Homo sapiens: one gene and its partner. The protein of the gene in region 2 interacts with the protein of the main gene of each other region in a pairwise test. Each region holds a gene or a part of one and is shown on either strand. Other genes may lie near its edges.

Region 1 (3,779 bases), about 42 Mb from region 2:
CAGTGTAGAGACCAGAGCTGGGCAGTGCAGGGCATGGAGACCTGCAAGACACATGGCCTTGAGGCCTTTGCACAGACCCACCTAAGATAAGGTTGGAGTGATGTTTTAATGAGACTGTTCAGCTTTGTGGAAAGTTTGAGCTAAGGTCATTTTTTTTTTTCTCACTGAAAGGGTGTGAAGGTCTAAAGTCTTTCCTTATGTTAAATTGTTGCCAGATCCAAAGGGGCATACTGAGTGTTGTGGCAGAGAAGTAAACATTACCACACTGTTAGGCCTTTATTTTATTTTATTTTCCATCGAAAGCATTGGAGGCCCAGTGCAATGGCTCACGCCTGTGATCCCAGCACTTTGGGAGGCCAAGGCGGGTGGATCACGAGGTCAGGAGATGGAGACCATCCTGGCTAACATGGTGAAACCCCGTCTCTACTAAAAATACGAAAAATTAGCCAGGCGTGGTGGTGGGCACCTGTAGTCCCAGCTACTCAGGAGGCTGAGGCAGGAGAATGGCGTGAACCCGGAAGGCGGAGCTTGCAGTTAGCCGAGATCATGCCACTGCACTCCAGCCTACATGACAATGTGACACTCCATCTCAAAAAATAATAATAATAACAATATAAGAACTAGCTGGGCATGGTGGCGCATGCATGTAGTCCCAGCTACTCCTGAGGCTCAGTCAGGAGAATCGCTTGAACTTGGGAGGCGGAGGTTGCAGTGAGCTGAGCTCATACCACTGCACTCCAGCCTGAACAGAGTGAGATCCTGTCAAAAAAGAAAAGAAAAAGAAAGCAGCATTCAAATGTAAGACAACTGTAAAATATTGAGCCCCACTTGGTCTAAAATTCAAAAAGAAGAACGCCTGTCCATCGCCTTTTTATAAGTCCTTCTCTCCACACCTAAAAGCAGCTGCAGCTGGAAGGGCACAAATTCCACTGTGTAAAATAAAATATTAGGGGCAACACACTTCATCAAGGCAGCAGGAATGAGAGAGAGCAGAGAAGATCAAGGATGAAGTCTTGGGTACTGAAAAATTCAGTGCTGGGCAGAAAAACTGACAGGGCAGTACAAGTAACAAACAGAATCCAAGTGGGGTGGCCCTTGTGCACAGAGCTCCAGGTGACCTCTGGAGAGACATGGGCATTCACATGGAAAGCTAAAACGGAAGCTCAAGTTTCATACTCAACATAATCTTCTGTGTGACAAAGGACAAGCCATGTAGCCTCTCTGTGCCTATTTCTTCATGCATAAACTGGGACTCATAATATTTGTAAAATGTATTGATACTCTCAGGGCAAATTCACTATATTGCTATACAGTTGAGATCAGTGTTGTAAAATTAAACTGATCTGGTTCTAATTGCCTCAAAGGCCAAAGCCCAGGCATTTGAAATGGAAAGAAGCAGAGAGGAGGCTGACTTAGCTGATTGGTATGGAAACAGTTGGGCCAAGAGCCAGAATTTCCCTTTGTAGCAACACGGCTAGTTTTACTTTGAGAAGCTCTGCTCAGCTGCTTTATAACATTAAGTCTGGCGGAATGGATGTCACTGTGCACAATAAAGTTTTCACAAGTATAAACAATGGTGATGTAAGTCAACATTGCTGTAGCCAGGTGTGAAGGTTGTATGGTGTGTGACGAATGTACATCATGTTTGTAGGTTTGGATGCTAATCTTGAATTGTAGTTTAAAAAATACGTATTTTTGTAACTCTTTGAAAGTTTATGAAGACTGACAGCTTTCCTTGTAAGCACTAAGAGAAAAAAAAGAAAGAGGGACATTTGACAATTTTAAAGAAACAACAAGAAATTAGAATGAAAATCTGTGACAAACAGCGTCAGTGTGGCCATGTCCACATTCCTACATGTCTCTCTCTACAAGCACCTCTCTAAGAAGCCTGACATCCCGGTGGACTCTTTATAGTCATGTACACTTGATTCCAGATGAGCTCTGGTCTTATCTGGATGCTCAGATAAGAGGTTTCTATCTGAGCATCCAGATGTTCCCTCAGGTTCCAAGACATTTCACCCCAGGCCCTGGGTTCACTCTGGAATTCGTAGGCTTCACGTCTCTCTAGAAATGACGTGTAAAATTTAAGACCAGACCTCAGCCATCAGCGTCCAGACCATCCTAGAAGTCTTTCCCAATCTCACAGAGAAAGCCCTAGTATTTCCCAGTGACCCCAGGATTCCACGTTGGGGTGGCCAAAGAAATAGGTCTCTCAGGGCTTTGCCACAGCCTCCAGCCCATCCTTCAGAGGCACACACAGCACCTCTCGGCTGCTCCAGCTCTGTAGGATAGCCTCCCCTGGGGTCCGTGGGACGCGGGCCACAGTGTTGAGGTAGACAAGGAGGATCAGTGAGAGGCCTCTTCCCTCTCCACAGAGACTGGATTGTCATTGTTCCTTCATTTATATCGTAGGGCTTAACATTTCACTCAAAAAAAAGCCCCTCTTTTTCTAATCCTTAGTCTTTGTTTCAAGGAAAGCCAGTTTTTCTTCTACCACATTTTCCAGGATCGACTTTAAGAAAAATGCAACATCTATTGAAAAAAAGTGGGGTGTATGCATGTGGTTTAATTCCAGATTGCTTTTGGGTTTAAGTGGTATCAAATTTCAGTATATTTCTGTCTTATGTGAAAGAAATATATTACTAAAACGTCAGTGAGCAATAATGTCAGCTGTCAAGCACTAGATTTATTTTTGCAGGATATGGAGTGCAATGAACTGAGTCAATATGGCAAGGTGTATGTGATCTGTGGGAGTTATGCCATTTAACATAGGAAGTGCATGGGACTTTCCCTCTCTGCACTCCAGCTCTTACTGTACCATTAGAAGATGCAGAATTCTGTTGGTGTGCAAAAAGTATAGCCTTACATTCAAGCAGAATGGATCTGAAGAAAGCAGCAATATCTGTTACTAGAGAACATTCCCATGTGTTTAAACTCTTCACTTCTTAGATGCATTTAAATTCTTAATGCAAATGACGTAGCAATTTGAAAACTTCTCCGTATTACTTGTGTTTAAAATGTCTTGCTTTAAATACAAAACAAATGGTAAAGGGGATTATCTTTTGTTTAGATGGTTAAATATTATTTTTGCCTTAGATAGCTTTGTAATAATTTTTCTCCAGACAGTTCAACACTTTTGAAAAATGACATGAATTTTCATTAAAAACCCTTTTCCTATGTTTATTGTATACAAGAATTATGCAATAAAATTTCTTTATAAAAATATTTTCTTCTTTGATTCCTGAAGACTCCTTTTATTTTCAGCACAGATACATGGACTGGAGTTTGTAGCAGACTGTTCTGTTTGCCTCCTTAACCAGCTGACAAGTCTGTAGTCTATATGGAGAGCCTTTCATCTGATGCAGTCTTTGGAAGTTGGGTCTCTTACAGTAGGGTCAAGTCCAACTCTCCACACCACAGGCCCTGGGAGAGGCCTCCAGGGATCTGAAAGACTGGAGGAAAGGGAAACATTTGCAGAATTACTCAACCTTCACCTCACCTCAGCAAAATCTTCAGCAGCTTGTGTATGTTTCTTGCTTAAAATATGGATTTGGGAGTTCCACCATAAAACTCTGTGGGTAAAAATGCAGGAATGATACCACGCTGATGCCTTGGCTTCTGTTAAAAAATTTGACAGGAAACTTACACTATCATTGAGGGTTGTTCTCTGTGGAAGTATATTAGGAGCTTTCCACTGCTTACAGATGATTTCACTGATAAAAGCCATCTCTACAGATAAGTTTTGGTATTGTATTATTTGTTGTTGAAATGTTGAGTTG
Region 2 (4,821 bases):
CATTTCAGTCTTGGGAATGAAGGAAGTGAACCCAGTGTGTGCTACTGAGATAAAGGAAGAAAGGGAGCTTAGAGTCCCAGTACCAGTGGTTTCCTGGGTATGGGGGAACCAGCCAGCTGGATGCCTTTGGCAAAATGCTGAGTTTGAAGCTGCCCTAGGAACCAGAGCTGCCCTGAGGGAGGCGTCACGACCCAGTGTCAGCAGCCAACCCTAACCATCCGCAACACATCCCCCAACCCTCCACTGCAGACCTGCCACATTTCTCCAAGGAGGTAACAGAGTAAAGGCATACCTTAGGCAGGAACAGGGCAGAAGAGGGTTGGAAGCACAGGAAGCAGTTTGTCTTAAGTACTAACAGCAGAAACAATAAGAATATGATCTCAAAAGCTAAAATACTCTAGAAATGCTCTCTTCTTCTAACCTCAGAAAGATTCAAATTGTACTTGACTTTCCCTAGAAGACTCACTCATCTCCTTCCTCCATGAAATGAGACTACCAGAGGAATCCTGTATTTTAAAAAAGTTTAATTTTAATCCTTCCTAGAGGAATACAGATTTGAATGAAATACATTCATTCCATAAATACATTAGCAGCAAAACCTTCCCACCAGAGTCCTCTACTCCAGCCCAGAGGTTGTGCCTTGAGCAGGAGAGCATGTTCCATCAATCCTGTCAACTTAAGGGTGGGTCTGCTTCTGAGAAACGCTGGATGTGCATGGGAGACACAATGACCAGGTGCATGGGTGACTTAACTAAGCTGGGACCCTGAAAACAGGCCCATGTGGTCACTATTCAGCCTTCTTTACCTTCCAAAAATCCTTTGGCATCTTCCATGCTTCTCTGATGAGGTTCCTCAGCACTGAGACAACTGGGAAGACCTAACTTTGCACATGCATTAAATAATGTTATTTTGAGTTGGCAATGTTTTAACACTTTTCATAAGGTAAATGAAACATAAAAGATTATTCCCTTCCTTCCCTTCCTCAGGTGAGTCCACATGTACTCATCAGGAGACAATCCAGCAGGCATTATTTGGGCTCTCTGTATCTCCAGGCCCCCTTTGTCTGAATGGCTGGATGTTTACTGGAGACAGGGAGCCATGTCTAAACCTACAAAGATCTCCACGTTACAATAACCAGGTGACTTGCTCAGGCTTCCATCAAAGCTAATTTCTTGGGCAGAGGCCAGGCATCTCTCCTCTTGTTCTCTCCATCACTGACTACTGACTGACTGCTGCTTTTTTATTTGCCCTCCAGGCACCTGCCGAAACTTTGGAAAACAAGATCTACCCTAAACTTCCAAGTGGCCAGGAGCAGTTAAGGCAGGTCCTGCTTTAAACTTACTAGCTGCCAAGTAGCACACTTATGCTGCTGTGTCCCAATCCATTCTGTGGTGAGTATAAGTCACAAGAGTCTGCATAAAACACTATCAGCAATCAGGATGGCTATGGGGCAAGGACCGTTTAGAATGTTACCAAGTCACAGGACCAGCAGGAAAATGGAATAATGGAAGAATGTGAAATAAATCTGATTTGTTTGAGCAGAAGGCAGCTTTGATTCAGGCATAAATGCATCTCCCAGATTATCATGTAAATAAAGACCTCAGAAGTTGACACTTCCCTCCCAGTCCACCACTTAAAACAGGACACATGCTCAGTTTTCCCAATCTGTTTTAAAGTGTTTTCATTAGGATACTCTTCTGTAAGTGCTTTATTCATTCCCAGTCTGTTTTGATTACTGGCTGAAAATAAATCAGGAACCATTTTATATAAAAACCATTATAGTAGATAACTGGTTATGTGTATTTTTCCATTTGCATTTTCATCCAAAATTGCTTGTTTCTTTTCCTTTTATTTATGTGCAGAAAGAGACTCATCCGCTGAATACACAGCACTGTTAATCCTACAGTCTTCTGTCCCCACAGAGTCTGCTAGATCTTCCTCTTCTGAGTCATCCTCTTCTTCCTCCTCTGGTGCTGACGAACTGGAGGTGGGCCCTTTGCAGGTTTTCAGGTGGCGGGTGAGATGGTATTTGGTTAGATAAGCCTTTGTACATTTTTCACAGACATAATCCCGTTTTCCTTCATGAGAATTGAGATGCTTCTTTAAGTGATTTGTTCTCAAGAACAGCTTATCACACTTGGGACACTTGATCTGGCGTTCTCTAAGAGGAACACAAGAAAAAACATTTGATTTGGGGTTACAAATAACAACTGAGGCAACACTTATTCTTCATAGCCGCAGGCCTTTGTCAGAGCAGCTCTATCCTTCTGAATCAGGCTTTTGCATAGGTGATATACAGAAGACTCATAAAACATGTATAGTTTAAAACAGTGTAGGCTCATTTTTCCTGTTTTAGAATACTATGTAAATTCTCAAATTCTATGTAAATTCTATATGTATTTCTTTTGTCTTGCTGCATTCTCTCAGTATGATGCTCATAAAATTCATTCAAGCTGCTGTATCAGTTGTTTGTTCCCTTCCACTGCTGTATACTATTTACAAATATACAAATACACCACAACTTATCTATGGTACTGGATTTGTCTCTAGCTAATGAATGTTTTGGTGGTTTCCAGTTTTTTATTATCACAAGCAAAAGTGCTAGAACGTTTTTAAATTTTTTTAAATTTTTATTATTATTTTTTAGAGACAGGGTCCCACCATGTTGCCCAGACTGGAGTGCAATGGCTATTCACAGGTGTGATCATCATGCACTACAGCCTTGAACTCCTGGGCTCAAGTGATCTGTCCGCCTCAGCCTCCCAAGTACCTGGGACTACAGGTGCATGCCACTGTACCTGGCATTTGAACATTTTTATACTTGTATGGTGCTCTGCAATACATGTTTCTCTAGGGCACATACCCAAGAACTATATAGCTAAATCAAAGGATATGCACATCTTCAACTTTACAAGATAATGACAAACGGTTTTCCAATGTAGTTGTTTCAATATACACATCCATCATTGACGGTTCTGGTTGTCCCATATTCTCAACTGGAAGACTCAAATTTGAAAATGTCTGCCAATTAGCCAGTACATAATGGTATCTCATTACACCGTTATTTGTATTCCCTGGATGCCACTTTTATGGAATTACCATTTTTCTGTCCTTTTCTTAGACTAGTGGTTCTCAAGTAGGGGCGACTGCCTCTATGGGGACATTTGGCAATGTCTGGAGTCCTTTCTGATTGTTATACTGGGGAGGGGTGGTATAATTAGTATCTAGTAGGAAAAGGCCAAGGATGCTGCTAACCATTCTACAATGCACAGGGCAGCCCCACAACAAAAAATTAACCCGGTCAAAATGTCAATAATGTCAAGGTTTGAGTAACCCTGGCCTAGACATTTCAGAGCTGAAAAGAACCTTAGAGATCACACAGACCAGGAATTTTTTAGCTTTTTTTTTTTTTTTGAGTAGCTGAACCCCATGTCTTTATGAAAGCCCAATATGAAACAGTTAAAGCAGGTTATTAATAAAATCCTGGAAGGAGTGAGAGGGTGCAGTCGGGCGTTCTGAAGCCTGGCTTCCTTAGCATTTCTCTCATCCTCTTCTAGCAACAGATGGCACTGAAGAACCCTTAGAATTCCCTGGAGCAGTTTTAAAACCACCAATCTAATCCAACCTCTTAATTCTGCAGATGGGAAACATCATGTGCATAAAAACTACTAAGGAACTTGCCCAAGGCCACAACAAAACCCCTACCAAAAGTCTGACTTTTCATCTTCTACTCTGATGGTTTTTAGATGTTTATTCAACACATATTTACTGTGTCTAATTATGCCAGGCACTGTTCTAGATGCTAGGGCTATAGGATGTGGGTAAACTAAGTCCCTGCTTTCATGAAGCTTACATTCTAAGTGGACAGATTATAGCATAAACAAATGTGTAACGTGGTATCATATAGCAATAAAGACTACGAAAACACACGAAGCCAGGTAAAAGTGAAGGGGTCCTATTTTAGATAAGATAGTCAAGGAAGGCCCTCCTGAGGAGATAACATTTGAGCAGAAACCTGAATGGAGGGAAGAAGACATGCAGGCATCTGGAGGGAGAAGTTTCTAAGGCAGAGGCCCTGAGACTGGATGTGCTTAGTATGCTCAAGGAGTAGCAAGGGGAGGGTCAGAGTGGCCAAAGCAGAATATGAAAAGTAAGAAAAGGTGAAGGGAGAGGTAGCCAAGTACTATTACATCATAAAGGGCCTTCTGACTGCTGTAAAAAGCTTTTAACACAAATACGATGGAAAGCCACCAGAGATGTATGAGTGGAGACAGGCACAATCTGACTTATATTTGAAATGGATTGCTCTGGCACTGCGGACAGAAAACTGTGTGTATGTGTGTTCATCTGTGTTGCGGAGTAGATGAGGAGAAACAGCAAGTAGTGGCAGGGAGATCAACTGGGAGGCTACTGAAGCCATCCATAGAAGAAAAGCTGGTGGTCTGGACAAGGTGTTAGTTGAATGAAGGAAGGAAGGAAAAACTGAGTTGAGAATTACTTCAAGGTGTTTGGCTTGACCATTGAGGTGAATAATGGTGGTGCCATTTAATGAGCTGCTCAGCACTGGAGGAAATCAAATTCATGGGGTAATACTGGGTTGAGTTTTGGACACATAAGATTTAAGTTGCCTAGCGAACATCCAGCATCAGAGCCGCTGAGTGATGGTGAGGTGTATGAGGGTGGAGACATAAATCATATGACGGTATCTAAAGCCATGAGACAAGATGACCTGGGGAGTAAACATCACTGTTCTTCTGCTCACTTCCTCTTTCTTACAGGAAGGGCAAAGCCAGGTTCTGTCACCACCCTTCCACTCTCGGG

What was found.
Region 1: the proteins of PRDM4 (region 2) and MSRB3 interact in binary tests that used the Homo sapiens proteins (3 or more experiments, as listed by UniProt).

The regions. Positions count from the first base shown.
Region 1 is NC_000012.12:65,463,683-65,467,461, forward strand, and holds the end of MSRB3 (methionine-R-sulfoxide reductase B3 isoform 2 precursor), read left to right. Parts: 3' UTR 1-3,225; downstream 3,226-3,779. UniProt on the Homo sapiens protein: Catalyzes the reduction of free and protein-bound methionine sulfoxide to methionine. Isoform 2 is essential for hearing.
Region 2 is NC_000012.12:107,732,362-107,737,182, forward strand, and holds the end of PRDM4 (PR domain zinc finger protein 4), read right to left. Parts: intron 4,587-4,821; exon of another isoform or gene 4,194-4,586; intron 2,162-4,193; coding exon 1,849-2,161; 3' UTR 510-1,848; downstream 1-509. UniProt on the Homo sapiens protein: May function as a transcription factor involved in cell differentiation.